Regions from separate parts of the Homo sapiens genome. Here region 1 is linked to region 2. The links come from fine-mapping of genetic effects on gene expression. A gene starts in region 2. The other region holds a variant in brackets. All regions are shown on one strand. Distances are from middle to middle.

Region 1 (9,528 bases), 460 kb after region 2:
GGATTGATATTGCTGATGATATTATTAATGCCAGTGAAAGTAACAGAGACTGTTCAAAACCTGTGGCTAGCACTAATTTAGACAATGAAGCTATGCAGCAAGATTGTGTATTTGAGAATGAAGAAAATACCCAGGTAAGGAATGTCAAAAATATGTGTTAGATGTACAACTTTGATTGCTTCATGTGTTTCTTTGATGCCAGAAGTTATAGTTCAGTATTTTGCTGATACACTTAATTGTCTCAATTATAAATCCCCAAGAATATACATTGTTTCAGAGTTTAGGAAACATCACTGGGTAGAGAAGTATAAAACAACTTATTGGCTGGGTGTGGTGGCTCACGCCTGTAATCCCAGCACTTTGGGAGGCCAAGGCGGGCAGATCATGAGGTCAGGAGATCGAGACCATCCTGGCTAACATGGTGAACCCCCATCTCTACTAAAAATACAAAAAAATTAGCCGGGCGTGGTGGTGGGCGCCTGTAATCCCAGCTACCGGGGAGGCTGAGGCAGGAGAAAGGCATGAACCCAGGAGGCAGAGCTTGCAGTGAGCCAAGATTGCGCCATTGCACTCCAGCCTGGGCGACAGAGTGAGACTCCATCTCAAAAAAAAGAAAAAAAAAAACAACTTATTTTAAATTATTTTCCTAGAAATCATGATGTCAGCAGAGGTAGCTAGGTGGTATTATGGTTGACTTTTGTTATTTTTAAGACAGCTTCCGTATTTCTTAGGAGTTTTGCTGAAGAACATGGTATAGGGGAGAACATATAATATTCTCATACACTTCTTAGGATGGGATAGATCCCTGTAACAGAATATTGGTTAACAAGAGAAAAACAAGTTTTAAGACATGTATACCTCATATATACATGGGAGATACTCGGGGGAAGTGAGTAAATCTCTCAGAGGTGGCTTAAATACCATCATGTCCTGAAACAAAGGAAAAAAGGGTGTTGGGGAGACCTAGTTGTAATGAGATGACCAGGAAAAGCACTGTAAGCAAAGTTAAGGTTAGCTCTCAAGATTGGTAGTTTTTAGTGATTTAGAGTCATCTTTCTCTTGCTCGTACAGAGAGGAGACACCCGTAGAAATGGAGATTTCTACTACAGATGAAAATTTCTTTTATAAAAGGGTAACTTCTCTGTATTATCCTGTGTTTGCTATTTCTGAAAATAATAAGCTGAAAATAATCCTTATGCCAAAGAGGAATAATTTGGTGTGGCATGTTCTGAACCTCCACTGTTGGCATCCTTTCTTGATTAGCAGAAACCTAGGAACATTGTTGTAATAATGACTAAATTATTGTCACTGTCACATTTGTTAGTAACTTTTTTTAATATAATTGCCATTAAATGTAAAAAGCAGCATCTAAGACATTCAAAATGTAATTTTGATACTACTTTTAAAAATAAGATGCTAAATTAATAGATAAGGTGGGTTTCCTCAGTATATTTTCATTCTAAACCATCCACTAAAGTAGGGCTAAAGAGGAATTTAGAGTAGGAAGACTTAGGTTTTGTATTCTGCCTTTGTTCAGTATCAGTGTGACTTTGGCCAAGTTACCTGACTTCTGAACTGCATTTTGCTTTTCTCTAAATAAGTGGGGGTAATACCTATATTAGAGGATTATGATAAAAAGATGTGAACATATTATAAAATTATTTTATAAACTAGAAGACATTTCAAAGAAGTTAAGCTGCCACTGTTAGTTTCACAGACTTGGGTGTATTAGATGAACAGCTTTTCAGTTATTGCTTCTATAGTTGTCCTCTTGCCCTTTCCTGGATTATCAGTTTCTGCCTGTCTACCTAGTCATTCCCATCAGTGTAAAACATTTATACTGTTATTTCTTCCAAGTTCAGAAAAAACCCTCTCTCGACTCCCCCCATCCCATTCTAGCACATACACCCTGATTTCTCTGCTTCCCTTTATAAATAGAATTGCTGGAAGAATTGTCTGTGTCTCTTTTCTTTAACTCTTCTCCTCCCATTCTCTCTTAAATTCACTGCAGTGATCCTTTCCTCCGACCATTCATTCCTCTGAAATAGCTTTTGCAAGTCACCAGTGATGTCTGTTGAATGTTTTACTTGACCTAACAGCAAGGTTTGATTCAATTAATTACTCCCACTACCTTGATATACTTTTTTCACTTGGCATTCAGGATATCTCACTCGGTTTTTTTTTTTTTTTTTTTTTTTTTTTTTTTTTTTTTTTACCTACACTGGCTGTTCTTTCTCATTCCCCTCTGCTGATTGCTCTTCCTCTTCTGAATCTCTTAAATTTGGAATGGCCCAGGGCCCATTTCTCAGATTGCTTATTTTTATTCACTTCCTTGGTAATCTTGTTTAGTCTAATGGCTCTACCTACCATCTATGTGCTACTGATTCCCAAATTTGTATCTCGAGTCCAGACCTGTTTTGGAACTTTAGATTGCTATATCCAACTAGGCACCCAGCATTTCCACTGGTATATTTTTACCAAGCATCTGTTGAGTAGGAAAGATTTCTTTCCTTACCCATCATTAGGTTCATAGCTGAGGCATCTGTAACAGAAGACATTAACAAGAGAAAAGCATGCACATTTATTTAATGTAAGTTTTACATGACATGAACACCTTCAGAAATCAAGACCCACAGAAACAGACACACCTGTGTATTTTAATGCTTTGGTTTGATGAAAAGTGGACAGTGGTGCGGATGAATAATTAGACAAAGAGGATGATAAATAAAGGGCGGCTCATTAACCAAGGCCTGTTTGTTCAGATTCTTTTCTATGTCCCTGTGTATTCAGAGATAAGGGCATTCCTTTCATCCAGGTATAGGGTAGATACTTCTGGAATGAAGGTTGTTGTTGTTGTTGTTGTTGTTTTTGAGATGGAGTTTCGCTCTTCTTGCCCAGGCTGGAGCAGTGGCACAATCTCAGCTCACCACAACCTCTGCCTCCCGAGTAGCTGAGATTACAGGTGCCTGCCACCATGCCCGGCTAATTTTTTGTATTTTTAGTTGAGACAGAGTTTCACTATGTTGGCCAGACTGGTCTCGAGCTCCTGACCTCAGGTGATCTGCCTGCCGTGGCCTCCCAAAGTGCTGGGATTATAGGCCTGAGCCACCACGCCCAGCCAAAGGTTTTATGACTTACTTCAGAAGATAAGTCTGACCACTTTTTACTGTTTCTACTGCCATCCTCTCACCTGGATTAATATTGCCTCCTAATTAATCTCCTCATCTTTGTTTCTTGATGGTATGTTCTCAACACTGAGCCAGAATGATCCTTTTAAGAGGAAAATTAGATAATGCCACTTCTCTTCCTAAAACCTTCCAGTGCCTTCTAGCTATCAAAATATAGCTATAGGCACTACGGAATATTGGCTGTGATAGTCAGGATTGAGACAGCTAAATCATAAGTCCTATCTGGATTGCTTATTTGTGGATATCTCCTTAGCTTACATTCTTACCTAGTCTTGCAGATACTTCCTCAGTTTTACCAAATCTCCTCATCACTGTCTGTTTATGGCAGGCCCTCCCACTTACCCACCCACTCCAGTCTCTGAACTTTTTGTCCTTTTTCCCTGCTTCGCATTCCGCCGCACTTTTTTTTTTTTTCCTGAGATGGAGTCTGTCTCTGTTGCCCAGGCTGGAGTGCAGTGGCACAGTCTCGGCACAGTACAGCCTCTGCCCCCCAGGTTCAAGCCATTCTCCTGCCTCAGCCTCCCAGGTAGCTGGGATTACAGGCATGTGCCACCACGCCCGGCTAATTTTTGTATTTTTAGTAGAGACGGGGTTTCACAGTGTTGGCCAGGCTGGTCTCAAACTCCTGACCTCAAGTGATCTGTGTGCCTCAGCTTCCCAAAGTGCTGGGATTACAGGCGTGAGCCACTGCACCTGGCCCCCTCCCCACTTTAGATAGTGTTATAATTATTTTATATATCTTTTAATTTTTATTTTTAGAGACAAGGTCTCACTCTTTCCCAGGCTGGAGTGCAGTGGTATGATCATACTCACTGTAACCTCAAACTCCTGGCCTCAAGCGATTTTCCTACCTCAGTCTCCTAAAGTGTTGGGATTACAAGCATCAGGCACCATGCCCAGCCATTTCTTTTATATTACTAGTCTGTTTATTGTCTGTCTCCCACTATTAGATTAAAACTTCATGGGGCTACTCACAGTGGCTCATGCCTGTAATCCTAGCACTTTGGGAGGTCATGGTGAGAGCGTCATTTGAGCCTGGGAGTTTGAAACCTGCCTGTGCAATGTAAGGAGGAGAACCCATCTGTACAAAAATGGTAAAAAAAAAAAAAAAAAAAAAAAAAAAAATAGCCAGGTGTAGTGGTGCTCCCCTGTGGTCCCAGCTACTTGGGAGGCTGAGGTGGGAAGATCACCTGAGCCCAGGAGGTAAGGCTGCAGTGCGTGGTGATCACACCACTGCAGTTCAGCCTGGGCGACACGGTGAGACCCTGTCTTTGAAGAAAAAAAAAAAACTTTATGAGGGCTGAAATTTTTGTCTGTTTTGTTCTTTATTACATCCCTATTATCTAGAACACTTAGTAGGTATTCATTAAGCATTTGTTGATGTAAGACCAGAATAGCATCTGGCACATAGTAAGCTAGTAAACAACTCGGTAAATAATTTGTTGAATGAAATTGGTGTATTAGGCTGGGCGCAGTGGCTTACGCCTGTAATCCTAGCACTTTGGGAGGCTGAGGCAGGTGGATCGCTTGAGCCCAGGAGTTCAAGGCCAGCCTGGGCAACATGGTGAAACCCCGTCTCTACAAAAATAAAAATTAGCCAGGCTAGGTGGCGTACGCCTGTAGTCCCAGCTACTTGGGAGGCTTAGGTGGGAGGATTGCTTGAGCCTGGGAGGTGGAGGTTGCAGTGAGCTGAGATCGTGCCACTGCACTGCAGCCTGGGTGACAGAGTGAGACCCTGTCTCAAAAAAAAAAAAAAAAAAAAGAAATTAGTGTATCAATTACTTTATAAAGAGAGCAGGAACTAATTCTTTCTAAAATTGTTTTTAGGAAACCTTTATGAATGATGGGTTCTTGGCCTTGAAAAACCTGTCACCATTTCTTCCCCCCAACCCCAGCTAAGAAGTTCAGTGATACTCTTATTATTTGAATAAGTTAGTTCAGTTGGGCAATACACAATAATACCTGTTTACTTGGACAGTATAAGCAAAAATACCTGATTTAAGTTTTCTTTCTTTTTTTTTTTTTTCTTGAGAC[G/A]GAGTTTCATTCTTGTCGCCCCGGCTAGAGTGCAGTCGTGTGATGTGGGCTCAGTGCAACCTCCGTCTCCTAGGTTCAAGTGATTCTCCTGCCTCAGCCTCTTGTGTACCTGGGATTACAGGCATGTGCCACCACGCCCGGCTAATTTTTTTTTTTTTTTTTTTTTTTTAGTAGAGACAGGATTTCTCCTTATTGATCAGGCTAGTCTCAAACTCCTGACCTCAGGTGATCCTCGCGCCTTGGCCTCCCAAAGTGCTGGGATTATAGGCGTGAGCCACCGTGCCTGGTCGATTTAAGTTTTCAATGACTTGATAATCTAGGTTGTACATGCACATACTTTCTAATACAGAATATGACTAGTGCTATTAGGGCACTATAGTCTTGCAGAAGAGAGGAAAGAACTTCTGGCCAGGGTAGTTATGGAAGGTCTTGGAATGAGGGGGATTTTGAACTTGGCTTTTTATAGGGCTGGATTTGGTTCAAGATTTGTGAAAGAAACTAAAATGAATAGTATAAGTAAAGATTACAGGGTAATGTTGAATGTTAATGAAACAGAGCTACTTGTAGAACTCAGGGTATTGTGGGAGGATATATAGTAGAAGATAATTCTGGAATATTGGTAGATTTGGGTCATACGTAGAGCCTGGAATACTATCTTAAGAATTGTAGATTTTCTCAGTAGAAGAAAAATATAGAAAACTTTGAAGCAGAGGGAATGATGTACCCAGATCTGTATTTTAGGAAGAAGGTTTTTTGTAGTAGTCATAAAAAGTTTGTGGGAAAGACTGGGGGTAAGGACAACAACAATCAGTAGGCTTTTTGCACTGTATTTGGCGAGCACTTAAAATATCTGAGCTGGTGGGCATGGTGGCTCATGCCTGTAATCCTTGCACTTTGGGAGGCCAAGGTGGGCAGATCACCTGAGGTCAGGAGTTCGAGACCAGCCTGGCCAACATGGTGAAAACGCATCTCTACTAAAAATACAAAAATTAGCGGGGCATGATGGCACATGCTTGTAATCCCAGCTACTCGGGAGGCTGAGGCTGGAGAATCTCTTGAACCCAGGAGGAGGAGGTTGCAGTGAGCTGAGATTATGCCACTGCACTCCAGCCTGGGTGAAAGAGTAAGACCCTGTCTCAAAAAAAAAAAAAAAAAGTCTGAACTGTGAGCCCTAGGGAAGGAAGGAAAAATAGAGAAAATTCCAAAGGTGAAAATGATTAAGATTTAGGTGCAAACTGGGGTAAGAAACACAGACACTAAGAGATTGGAAAAGAGGTCAGTGTTGCAGAACTGGAATATCAAGGTGGTTTATATGAAGCAGATGTTCAGGTCTTGAGCTGTGGCTGGTGGTGGAGGCTCATTTTGTCTGTGAGTGAATGCCATTGCCAAAGCAGTGACTTGAATAGAATAAACGGGGATTGAAGAAACCCTTGGGGAACCTCTGTATTCTAGCTCTTTGGAGGAAAAAAAGCAGCCATGACCATAGCAGTTGGGAATGTCAAAGAGGATGGGATTTTTTCCTGAGTCTGAAAGTTGGTCAAAATAGAGAGGTAAAAGGAGGAAAAAAGGTGGTGGGAGGCAAAGGTACAAAAATAAGAAGAGTAAGTTTAATTTTATTTGCTTGCTAGGGTGGTTAAAAGTCTAATGAAATGGCTTTTTTTTTTTCTTTGCCTTTGCTGTTGAACAAAAAATTTAAGAATACCCAGGAACAATATATTTAATGCTGGTGAGGGTAGGTTAAGGTAAGTGGTCTTATACAGACATCGGAAGTATAAATTGCTGTAAACTTCCTGGAAAACACATTAACAGTAAGAACAAAAGACCTTAAACCTTTGATCCAGAAATTTCAAAATCTAGGACTCTTTCCTAAGGAAATACATACAAATCAGAGGTGTATGCAAAGATTTTTCTACTAGAATTCTTACTGGGGGTTTCTTCATCGGAAAAAAAAATGGGAAACACAAAAAGTCCTAAATGGAAAATGATTAGATAAATCATAGTATATCCATATCATAGGATATAGTTGAGTCATTTAAAATTATTTTAAAGGCCCAAGTAATAGTTGTGAGGTAAAGTTATTTTGAAAAAAAAACAAAAAACAAAAAACAAAACATACAAAACCAAGTGTAGATTACTAAAGCTAATGCAGTCCCAATTTCTTTGTGTGCATGCACTGCATGTGTGTGTGGCACATAGTCAAAAGGCCAAGTCAGAATATTCACAGTGGCCTTCTGTCTGATAGATTGTGGATGATTTTACTTTTCTTCATATGTCCTTATATTTATGTTTCCAACAGTTTCTCTGATTTATAATCAAATAATTAAAGAAAATTTATTGGATTTAGTGATAGAAATTATTGGTAAAGAAAGAGGAGCTTTGGTAGGTAGAGGATTTCATGGTTGAGAATGAATATCAGGTGAGTAGGTAGAAGCTGCAGTGTGTGGAATGCCTTTTGCACAAGTTTTGCATTGAAATTAAAAGGAAAGAGAAGGCCAGGCATGGTGGTTCATGCCTGTAATCCCAGCTGTAATCCCAGCACTTTGAGATATCAGGGAACCTGCTCCCGATAGTCATGTAGGTTCTTTTCTATTTTCCCTAAGCATTGGCTGGGTTGAGAAATAAAGGGACAGAGTACAAAAGAGAGAAATTTTAAAGCTGGGCATCCGGGGGAGACATCACATGTTCGTAGGTTCTGTGATGCCCCCCAAGCTGTAAAACCAGCAAGTTTTTATTAGGGATTTTCAAAAGGAGAGGGAGTGTATGAATAGGGTGTGGGTCACAGAGATCACATGCTTCACAAGGTAATAGAATATCACAAGGCAAATGGAGGCAGGGCGAGATCACAGGACCACAGGACTGGGGTGAAATTAAAATTGCTGATGAAGTTTCAGGCACACGTTGTCATTGATAACATCTTATCAGGAGACAGGGTTTGAGAGCAACCGGTCTGACCAAAATTTATTAGGCGGGAATTTCCTCGTCCTAATAAGCCTGGGAGCGCTATGGGAGACTGGGGCTTATTTCATCCCTACAGTCTTGACCATAGAAGATGGCCACACCCAAGGAGGCCATTTCAGAGACCTACCCTCAGGGGTGCATTCTCTTTCTCAGGGGTATTCCTTGCTGAGAAAAAGAATTCAGCGATATTTCTCCCATTTGCTTTTGAAAGAAGAGAAATATGGCACTGTTCCACCTGGCTCACCGGCAGTCAGAGTTTAAGGTTATCTCTCTTGTTCCCTGAACATTGCTGTTATCCTGTTCTTTTTTCAAGGTGCCCAGATTTCATATTGTTCAAACACACTTGCTCTACAATTTGTGCAGTTAATACAATCATCACAGGGTCCTGAGGCGAAATACATCCTCCTCAGTTTACAAAAATGATGGGATTAAGAGATTAAAGTAAAGACAGGCATAGGAAATCACAAGGGTATTGATTGGGGAGGTGATAAGCGTCCATGAAATCTTCACAATTTATGTTCAAAGATAGCAGTAAAGACAGGCATAAGAAATTATAAAAGTATTAATTTGGGGAACTAATAAATGTCCATGAAATCTTCACAATCCACGTTCTTCTGCCATGGCTTCAGCTGGTCCCTCCATTCGGGGTCCCTGACTTCCTGCAACAACAGTGGCCTTCTGGCTGATAGGTTATGGATGATTTTACTTTTCTTCATATGTTCTTATATTTAGGTTTCCAACAGTTTCTCTGATTTATAATCAAATAATTTAAGCAAAAAATTCCAATTAAAGAAAATTTATTGCATTTAGTGATAGAAATTATTGGTAAAGAAAGAGGAGCTTTGGTAGGTAGAGGATTTCATGGTTGAGAATGAATATCAGGTGAGTAGGTAGAAGCTGCAGTGTGTGGAATGCCTTTTGCACAAGTTTTGCATTGAAATTAAAAGGAAAGAGAAGGCCAGGCATGGTGGTTCACGCCTGTAATCCCAGCACTTTGGGAGGCCGAGGTGGGTGGATCACGAAGTCAGGAGATGGAGACCATCCTGGCTAACATGGTGAAACCCCATCTCTACAAAAATACGAAAAATTAGCCAGGCGTGGTGGCAGGCGCCTGTAGTCCCAGCTACTTGGGAGGCTGAGGCAGAATGGCATGAACCCGGGAGGCGGAGATCGCGCCACTGCACTCCAGCCTGGGCAACAGAGCAAGACTGTCTCAAAAAAAAAAAAAAAGGAAGAGTTGAGCAGTCTGGTTGTGGAAGAGATATTCCCCCCTTCCCCACTCCCGTCCCCCATTTCTGCTTTCTTGATACAGGATGGAGATTTGAGCATGTCAGTAGGAATCACTCAC
Region 2 (9,528 bases):
CCCTGCCATGCCTAGCTAATTTTTGTATTTTTAGTAGAGACGGGGTTTCACCGTGTTGGCCAGGATGGTCTCGATCTCCTGACCTCGTGATCTGCCTGCCTTGGCCTCCCAAAGTGCTGGGATTACAGGCGTGAGCCACCACACCCGGCCTTTACCCTCAATTTTTAACCCATCTCTCCATCTCTTTCCTCTTCTAAAACTATTTTTCTCAAATGCAAGGGTCTTATCTATAAATGTAATGATCTCTTGTCCTCTCCCCCTTGGTAAAATTCTCTTCTTGAGTTCCGATGAACTGTGTTATTAGTCCCCTCTTCCAAGAGGTATCTGATCATTCAGTAAACATTTTTGAGTTCCTGCTGTGAATATACAGATGATTAAGACATATTCCCTGTCCTCAAAGTGCTCATACATACGTAGTCTAGTACAGCCTGGAAAATGCCTTGGAAATGCAAGTATCCAGCATTTATAGGAGTGAATCATATGCCTATTTTACAAATAAGGAAACTGAGGCCTCGAGAGCTGTGACCTGCCTAAGGTCGCAGGCAGCATGGCAGAAGCGGGTTTCCTGAATTCCACTGAGGGGCTCTGGCTGCCGCCAGAAAGAAACATGGGGATTATGTTTGTTCTTACTCCTTGTTTGTTTGTTTTTTTTTTGAGACGGAGTCTCACTCTGTTGCCCAGGCTGGAGTGCAATGGCGCGATCTCGGCTCACTGCAACCTCTACCTCCTGGGTTCAAGCAATTCTCTTGCCTCAGCCTCCCTAGTAGCTGGGATTACAGGGGCGCCACCATGCCCAGCTATTTTTTTTTTGTATTTTTAGTGGAGACGGGGTTTCACCATGTTGGCCAGGCTGGTCTCAAACTCCTGACCTCAAATGATCCACCCACTTAGACCTCCCAAAGTGCTGGGATTACAGGTGTGAGCCCCCTCGCCTGGCACTACTATGTCTGTTCTTCTGCAGGTCAAGTTAGGCATGAGAGGGGAGATATCAAGGACCCCATGAAATTGTCAGGAATGGGAGGAGCTTCACCCCCAGGCCCAGTCTTTTGTTTGGCTGGCTGGGTAGAGAAAGGCAGAGGCCCTGGGCCCTGAGATACAGGAGGGGACGCTGGACCTCACCAGGAGAGCACTATATCCGTGAGCGTCTCGGCCGTGGTGAAGAAGGCAAAGACGATCCAGTACATCATCCATTTCACCTGAGGGACAGAGGGAAGCGCTGGCTGGGGCACGGGGCTGAGGGGCCAGGGACACCCAGGACCCCAGCTCTGCCTGTTGAACATGCCTGGGCTGGGGAGAACACCAAGGACCCCACTTCTGCCTGCCAGCCATGTTGGAGGCGCTGTGTGGGACACCCAGGGCCCTCCTTTGCTGGTGGGTCTTGTTAGTGGCTGACAGTGTTGGTGCAAAGTCACCCCCATCTGTAATAGGACCCAGTGCCCTCCCCTCTCTGTGCCATGTGGGTTGGGTAGGGGGTGAAGGGTCATCCACTCACATATTCCTTCACGTTTTTTGTCTTCACGGCCTTGTAGGAAGAATAGGCTGGGTACAGGGTGCCAAAGATGAGCCTAGGGAGGCAGGCATGGTTACTGGGCCTCTCAGCCAAGGGCAGTGGCCTCTCCCTCCCAGCTCCGCATCAGCCCCTGGGTAAGTAATGGGAAGAGAGACAGAACTCCCCGCTGGACTGATGAACTCAGGTCAGGGGTTAAGGTCAAAGCAGCATGGAACATGCCCAGCCAGGTAGGGTGATGCCCCCTCCCCGCTCCACTGTTCAGTTTTTCTCTAGCCCCGGAGGCAGGGAAAGGCCCAGAGGCCAGAGGGTCCAATGTAGTCCCTTGCGCCATGATCCTTGGTTACACACAAATATGTCATGGAGACTGGGAGTCAGGTCACTGCCACAGGGTGTCTTCCTTCTTGACCTCATGCCCATTCACACCCATCTGCCCTTACCCTCCACCTCCCTCAGAGCCAGGCTCTGCGAGGGAACCTGACACCACCTAACAGGGCACCCTACCTGGCAGGCAGAGGTACCACTGTGGCCCTGGGGCCCTAGGGAACAGAGGGCACAGGGGCAGGAGGCCCTGAGAGAGGCAAAGAGGCTTATTCCCCCATGTAAACACCACAGGGACAGGGCTCAGGGGAGGGCCCCGCTGGTGATCCAAGTACAGAATGCAGACAAGACACAGGCCGGGAAAGAAGAGGACCGATGCCCTTTGGGGCTTGCCCAGGCAAGAGAGAAGCAGCCACCCTGAAGGCCACATGGAGGCGTGAGGCCCCTCCATTCCCCCTGGGATGGGTGGGGGAAGAGAAGGAGTCTAGAGTAAACCAGGACAGAAGCACTTGGCCGGCCCGGCTGTACCGAATGGGAAGAAGGGAGCAGGGTGGGGCTGCCGGTGTCAGTCCCCAACGGTGGAGGCCGAGGGGCAGTGTCCTCATTAGGGCAGGGGATAGCTCCGAGAACCACGAGGAGCCCCTGTCAGGCTCAGCCCCTTGACAATGTGTGGCTGTCGCCTGTTTCCACATGGACAGGAGGGATACTTCCAAACCGGCTGGTGCAAGTGGAGTGCGGAGCAGAATCCTCAAGGACAAAGTCTGGGCTCGTGGGGAATGGTGTGTGTTCCCTCCTGGGGCCCGGGGAGGTGCCAGAGACACAGCTCCACAGTGTGGCTGGCAGCCTGGAATGAAGGCCACGGAGCGTCCTCCCCCAGCGGGGTCCACAATCCCAGGCTGAGCACACACATCCCCTCTCCCAGTTACCTCTCACACTTTGTCCTCCGAGCATTTCTGCTTCCCGATACCCAGACTTCCTCCCTAGGGGGCCTAAGGGCATATGCCCTCGTCCCCAGTCTCCTGACAGTGAGTGGAAGGGAGAGACCAAGGGGCCTGGTGATGGCTCTGAGCTGCGGAATGATGATGAGGCCCTGCCTTGCTCCACTCTCTTCCATCACCCTGTTACCTCCCCCAGAGGGACAGGGCCCGGGTCTGAGGATCTCCTCCAGCCCAGACCTGCTAGGTGGGGGAGGGGACGCGCCTGCCTCCCCTTTTAAATCAAGCCGTGCTGCTCAGCCTCTAGGATGGGCGCAGGAGCAAGGACGGTAGAAATAAAAGAGGTTATTAATAAAGAATGTGGGTGAGGTCCCTGGGAAGCCAGGCCTGCCACGCTCCCCTAATATTCCCCCCTCCAGTCCTGGGTGCCACATCTCCATGTCTCTGGGGGCCCCAAATAAGGACGCAGCGCCTTTAGGTGACTCTGCTGCACGAAGCTTCGGAGAAGTCCACCCGGGCTTTAACACCCCCGCCCTCCATCACAGCCCGCATCACCCCCCGCCGCCGCCGCACTCACACCACCAGGCGAGAGATGATCCAGGACACCATGGCGGGGCCGGGCGCGGCGCGGGGCGGGGACCCGGCCCGGCCGAGGATGCAGCTGCCTGAGGCCGAGCGGCGGCGGCGGCGGCAGCAGGAGCCGCAGTAGCAGCAGCAGCCGCTGCAGCAGCCGCCGCGGGGGCAGCGGAGCGCCCAGCGCCGCCGTTAAAGGGGAGGTCCCTGCCGCAGCGGCGGGCCGTGGGCGGTGGCGGCTCTTAAAGGGGAGGCCGGGAGGCCGCCGCGGCGGCGGCGGCGCGCCCCCGCCCCGGCACCTGCTGTGGCCGGGCATGCGCCTCCGACCCTCAGTGCCCTGCCTTCCTCGAATCGCTTGTTCATCTTTCTTGGGTTTCAAGCCCTAGGCTGTTGTCGTGGAGGTCTCCATGGTTACATCCTGAAATCGACCCCTGCCCACCTCCTGCCCTGCCCACACCAGGCGCTTACTGTGTGCCAGCCCCTGTGCTAAGAGCTTCACTGCGTTGCCAGTGAATCCTCTTGACCACCCTATAAGGCAGGCGCTATAAAAGCCCTCATTTTGAAGATAAGGGAATGAGAAGCTTAAGGCTCAATAATCTGTTGAGAGTCACAAAGCCACCAAGTCATGCTGCTAAGATGACCCCAGGAAGCCTACTTTAAACAGGTTACATCCCCCAACTGCTGACTAGCAAACTCTCCTCATTACAGGCCCTGAAGACATCCACCTGAGCTCCTGAGTCACAGGTACAGCCGCACCTGTCCACCCCACTCCTTCTCACCCCGTTGAAAGAGGATCTCCCCTGACCAGATGATGTTTTGTTTTTTTGAGACAGGTCCTCACTCTGTCGCTCAGGCTGGAGTGCAGTGGCACAATCTCAGCACACCTCCTGGGCTTGAATGATCCTCCCGCCTCAGCCTCCCGAGTAGCTGGGACTACAGGCCCAAAACACCACCAGCTAATTCCTGTTTTTTTGTTTTTTGTTTTTTTTTGCCAAGATGGGGTTTTGCAATATTGCCCAGGCTGATCTCCAACTCCTGAGCTCAAGCGATCCACCCGCCTCAGCCTCCCAAAGTGCTGGGATCACTGGTGTGAGCCACCGGGCTGCTGGTCTGCTTTTTTAGGTTGTCAGCTCCTAAGCTTTGCAGCGGAACAGAGCTTTATGCTCTCAATGTGGTTACTGACAACAAAGGGTCAACCTTCTTTTCAAACAGAGGGGCTGCGAGAGGGTCCTGGGGCTCCAGTTCCACCCCCATCAGCAAGCACTAGTGGCAGTGAATGTCCTGATTCTAAAGACATTTATATCCAGAATGTAGGCTAGCCTGCCTCCTGATCTTCAGGAAAGCAACCAACCTCCAACCATCCACCAACACCCCCAGCCCTATTGCTCTCCTTTCCTGTCCCATTTTAGAGCTTCTGCATTCCTCTACCCTTTATGTTGAGTTGTAATCCTTCGGGTGACCACAGCATCAACCTGTGCCCATCTGGGCTGAAAGGACACATTCAGAACTGTGTATTTCAAAGAGTCATGGTCTTATTCAAGCTCAGTATCCCTGAACAACACAATGGTCTATTTCTAACCTGGTAAATTATATTTCCAGGTTCAAACACTTTGGAAGATGTTTCCCAAAACGTTCCAGAAAAGCAGCCTCTGATAACCCCTCTTGCTATTCTTTACAACTTCCTCTCCAGAAAACATCTCCTAATTGGAATGCAGTCTGTTATCACCCCACAATGAAACACTTTAATTACTGCTTGATAAATCCCACATGAGTGTCTCCCACCATCTCTAAGGTGGATCTATGGCCACACGTTTCATGTAGGCAGCCAGGCTGCCTGCTTAAGAATCCCACCACAGACTGTCCAACTTTGCTGAGGCCACACACCATGACCCTTCCCCCCAGACTCTGCCACAGGAAGGGAGGACCCCAACTTTCCCACTCCATTCACAAAGCATAAAGTATGGGGAAACATGTCTCTCTTTCTACCCTCTAATTCATGTGGCCCCTTCCCCTTACCCCCAATTCCCCAAACCATACTGACCTCACCCTGGCACTTTCCTTTTTTCTAACATGGCACAGTCTCAACAAGCAAAGAAAAATATCTGGGTGTAGCACAGTCATGAAGACCTGGAAATGAATCCCCCACCTCCAACCCAACTCCCAATCTGATGTTGATTTTAGAAGGGTTGGTACACGAATAATTTAGTCCACTCCAAACAGATTTGTTAGATTTTTAATAAGAACATGGAAATCCCAATCAGCCCTTCAACAAAATTAAAATACAGAAAGTGAAATTAAAAGTATTCTACATTAAATGACTTTTATTTAAAAAAAAAAAAAAAAGTAACTGTGAACATATAAACAGCCTGCAGGGCACTACAGTACAGCTGGAGAGATATACATTTTCCAATGTACCTATGGGCCAATGAATCCCACCATTTTCAAATAAATCCTTAATCAGACTCCACTCAGTTGGAAAGTTTTGCTGAAAATATTTCTGGATAAAAAACAAAAAACCTCATGTTGGAAATCAACTGTCCTTCCCATTTGGAAACATTAAGAGGAGTCCCCAGGGAACACTGGTAATAGGTGAAAATGGTTCCTGGAGTCACCAGTGTTGTACACACACATGGGGAACACACCACAGCTTAGATGTGACAAAGTTCCTTCTCATATGACTGTTCCCTCAAGGTAAGACTAAGATGGGAGGGGGAGAAAAAGAATCCTAAAAAAGCCAATTTTTAAAAATTCTGCTTTGGCTGATTTTGTGCTATAATGGGTAGCTGATTTCTAAAAATCATATTTCTTCAAAGAGTTTTATATCGAAAGGAAGACTAAATGTAATGTGCCTTTCCTTATAATCCAGGAAAACAACTGTGGTATTTCAAAAATTCTAAAAATATCTACTTTCATGAAATAGTAACTATTTCACTACAAACCTATTTTTCACTAAATACACACATTTCCTAATCCTGGAGCCTCCTGGGAAAAGCAGTGGGTTCTCCCTGGGTCTTGCAAGACTCCAGTGTTCACAGGAGAGTGTGGGGAATAGCTTCACCCCGTCTCCTGGGATGGGCTTTGTCAGAGGTCACGTGCAGAGACGCTATCAGACTTCCACCAGGCATGTTTAAGCAATTACCCCATACTTGTACCAGTTATGTGATTTCCCCTATCTCCAAACACATTTCCACTTAACTAGGCACAAGAGGAAAAGAAAAGAAAGGTGTGCCCGTGAATCTCAAATCAGGAGAATGTGCAGGAAAGCCCCGCCATGTTCAGGCAATTTGGATTTCCAAAAGGCCACAGGATAGGGATGTGGCACTCTTGGCTTGGAGTCTCAAACTGTGTGTGTGAACAGTACGACTTTCCTGTGTCAACCTTCAGTGTTGAGGCAGCGTAGAAGAGAGTGGCTGGAGAGTTTGGAATACTGACCACACTGGCTCTGGGTGAAGGGCCTCTGCTCCAGCAAAGAGCCCTGCCGTTCCCTGTTAAGTGTTGTGAGTGAAAGACCTGCTTCACAGAGGAGCTTGGAGTTTCTCCATGCCTAGGACCTTGCCAGTTTGGATTCATGAGCCTTGAGGGTGCCAACCGCATCTTTCACTGCATGGTAAATGATGTTCTTCACCTAGAGAAGGTGTACAGCAAAGTCAGTTCACAGCAGCCCCATGCAAATGTACGTTCTACCTTGACTGTAAGCCTACTGGTTTAGTGGGGAAACTCCCAAAAAGGACTGTGCGTTCCTGTATCAATCCCCACAGTCATTTACAAATCACATAGGGCATGAGGTGTGTACTCAAAAAAGAATAATGAAGTTATGTGAAAGGCCATCTGATCACCATCATTTATGTGCTTACTATGTCCTGGGCAGGCGCTGCTGCTGAGCTCTTTATGTGGACCTTTGCTTAATCCTTGACAGAATCCTATGAGGTAGGTTCTATTATTATCATGCCCAATTTACAGAGGAGAAACTGCGGAAACTAAGGCCACAGTGAACACCTGGAGAACTTTGTTTCCTTATATGGTTAAGAGGCTTCCTTAAGGTTCTACAGCTAATAAGGATGCATTAAAACAAGAGGGGAAAGCAGGATTATGGCCTATTTTTTCCCTTCGTGCTTATATGTTTTCTGATTTGGATATATTACCTGTGAAATTGGAACACACAATAAAAGTTATTGAAAAAAGTGAACAGGCATATTAAGGTGAAGAGAATAAAGACAGCTTTCTTTTAAAGGGCTGACAAGAAAACTGAGGTTATTTCTGGGGAGGAAAAGCGGGGAAATGCAAAGGGGAAGGGTACATGGGGGCTTCAACCATGTAGTTGCTGTATATGTATGTGTGCTATAATTTCTTAAGCTGGGTCATGGGCATCCAAGTCCTTCTTTTACTATTCTCCATTAATTTTTTTGCATTGCTTCAACAAAGATTTATGAATACCTACTATGTGTCAGACATTGTGCTAAGGAAAAGCAGTGAGTAAAATGTAAAATTCCTGCCTTCACAGAGCTTAAATAGCTTACATTCTAGTAGGGTTAAGTAACAGATTAAAAAAATATATCTATATCTGTATCTATAGCTATATCTCAGATGGTGAAAATACTACAGGAAAAATAAAGTAGTGAAAGTGGGACTGGTAGTGCTGGAGCAGGAGTTGTTATTCTAAACAGGGTAGTCAGGAAAGGTCTTTTTTTTTTTTTTTTGAGATGGAGTCTAACACTGTTGCCCACGCTGGAGTGCAGTGGCGCCATCTCAGCTCACTGCAACCTCCGCCTCCTGGGTTCAAGCGATTCTCCAGCCTCAGCCTCCCAAGTAGCTGGGACTACAGGCGCCCACCACCATGCCTGGCTAATTTTTGTATTTTTAGTAGAGACGGGGTTTCGCCATATTGGCCAGGCTGGTCTCGAACTCCTGACCTTGTGATCTGCCCACCTCGGCCTCCCAAAGTGTTGGGATTACAGGCGTGAGCCACCGCGCCCAGCCTGTTGTTTTTAAATAAAGAGACAGAGTCTGTTGCCCAGGCTGGAGTGTAGTGGGGTGATCATAGGTCACGAGAGCTTCAAAACTCCTGGGCTCAAGTAATCCTCCCACCTCAGCCTCCTGAGTGGCTGGGACTGCAGAAACACACCCAACATCCCTAGCTCGGGAAAGGTGTTATGGATAAGGTGACATGTTACCTTTATATTCTCATTCTATGTAAACACCAATGTTGGACGGGCACGGTGACTCACGCCTGTAATCTCAGCATTTTGGGAAGCCGAGGCAGGTGGATCACCTGAGGTCGGGAGTTCAAGACCAGCCTGGCCAACATGGTGAAACCCTGTCTCTACTAAAAATACAAAAATTAGCTCGGTGTGATGACACGTGCCTGTAATCCCCAGATACTCGGGAGGCTGAGGCAGGAGAATCGCTTGAACCCAGGAGGCAGAGGCTGCAGTGAGGCAAGATCACGCCACTGCCCTCCAGCGTGGGCAACGGAGCGGGACTCCATCTCAATAAACAAACACCAACGTTGATTATACTTTGTATAAAAACTATGGTTGGCTGGGTGCAGTGGCTCACTCCTGTAATTCCAGCGCTTTGGGAGGTGGAGGCGGGCAGATCACCTGAGGTCGGGAGTTCGAGACCAGCCTTGCCAAAATGGTGAAACCACGTCTCTACCAAAAAATACAAAAATTATCTGGGTATGGTGGTGCATGCCTGCAATCCCAGCTACATGGGAGGCTGAGGCAGGAGAATCACTTAAACCCAGGAGACGAAGGATGCAGTTGAGCCAAGATCACACCATTGCACTTTCATTTGGGTGACAGAGTGAGACTGTCTCAAAAAAAAAAAAAAAAACAGCCGCAGTGGCTCACATCCGTAATCCCAGCACTTTGGGAGGCCGAGGGCGGGTGGATCATGAGGTCAGGAGTTCAAGACCTGCCTGGCCAAGATGGTGAAACCCCGTCTCTATTAAAAAACTACAAAAATTAGCCGGGCACAGTGGCAGGTGCCTGTAATCCCAGCTACTCGAGAGGCTGAGGCAGGAGAATTGCTTGAACCCAGATGGTGGAGGTTGCAGTGAGCCGAGATCATGCCACTGCACTCCAGCATGGGTGACAGACTGAGAATCTGTCTCAAAAAAAAAAAAAAAGAAAGGAAAAGTGCATCAGACTCAGAGTTGAAGGTGATTGAATCTACCAGCAATTAAGAAAA

Which allele goes with the higher level. Positions count from the first base shown, and alleles are read on the strand shown. Sizes are in standard deviations (SD) of each study's normalised expression.
In carriers of allele A in region 1, the expression in aorta of the gene that starts at base 3,524 in region 2 tends to be higher than with G alone (large effect, 0.87 SD a copy in GTEx).

What was found. PIP is the estimated chance that this variant, and not a neighbour inherited with it, causes the effect. A credible set is the group of variants that fine-mapping cannot tell apart.
Region 1: its variant is the best candidate, but not a certain one, in a credible set for the expression of REEP2 in aorta (GTEx, PIP 0.74).

The regions. Positions count from the first base shown.
Region 1 is chr5:137,975,863-137,985,390 of GRCh38, reverse strand. It overlaps FAM13B (family with sequence similarity 13 member B), which reads left to right. Exons shown (of 24, transcript NM_001385994.1): 10 at 2-134. Among named protein-coding and RNA genes, the nearest start is that of FAM13B-AS1, 52 kb to the left of the region's middle. The variant G/A (reference allele first, on the strand shown) is at 5,223.
Region 2 is chr5:138,433,053-138,442,580 of GRCh38, reverse strand. REEP2 (receptor accessory protein 2) reads right to left here and starts at 3,524. Exons shown (of 8, transcript NM_001271803.2): 1 at 3,341-3,524; 2 at 1,493-1,565; 3 at 1,120-1,196. The coding sequence starts at 3,372. It overlaps KDM3B (lysine demethylase 3B), which reads right to left. Exons shown (of 24, transcript NM_016604.4): 24 at 5,554-6,961. The coding sequence ends at 6,881. RefSeq lists an enhancer at 2,358-2,891 and a silencer at 3,277-3,696.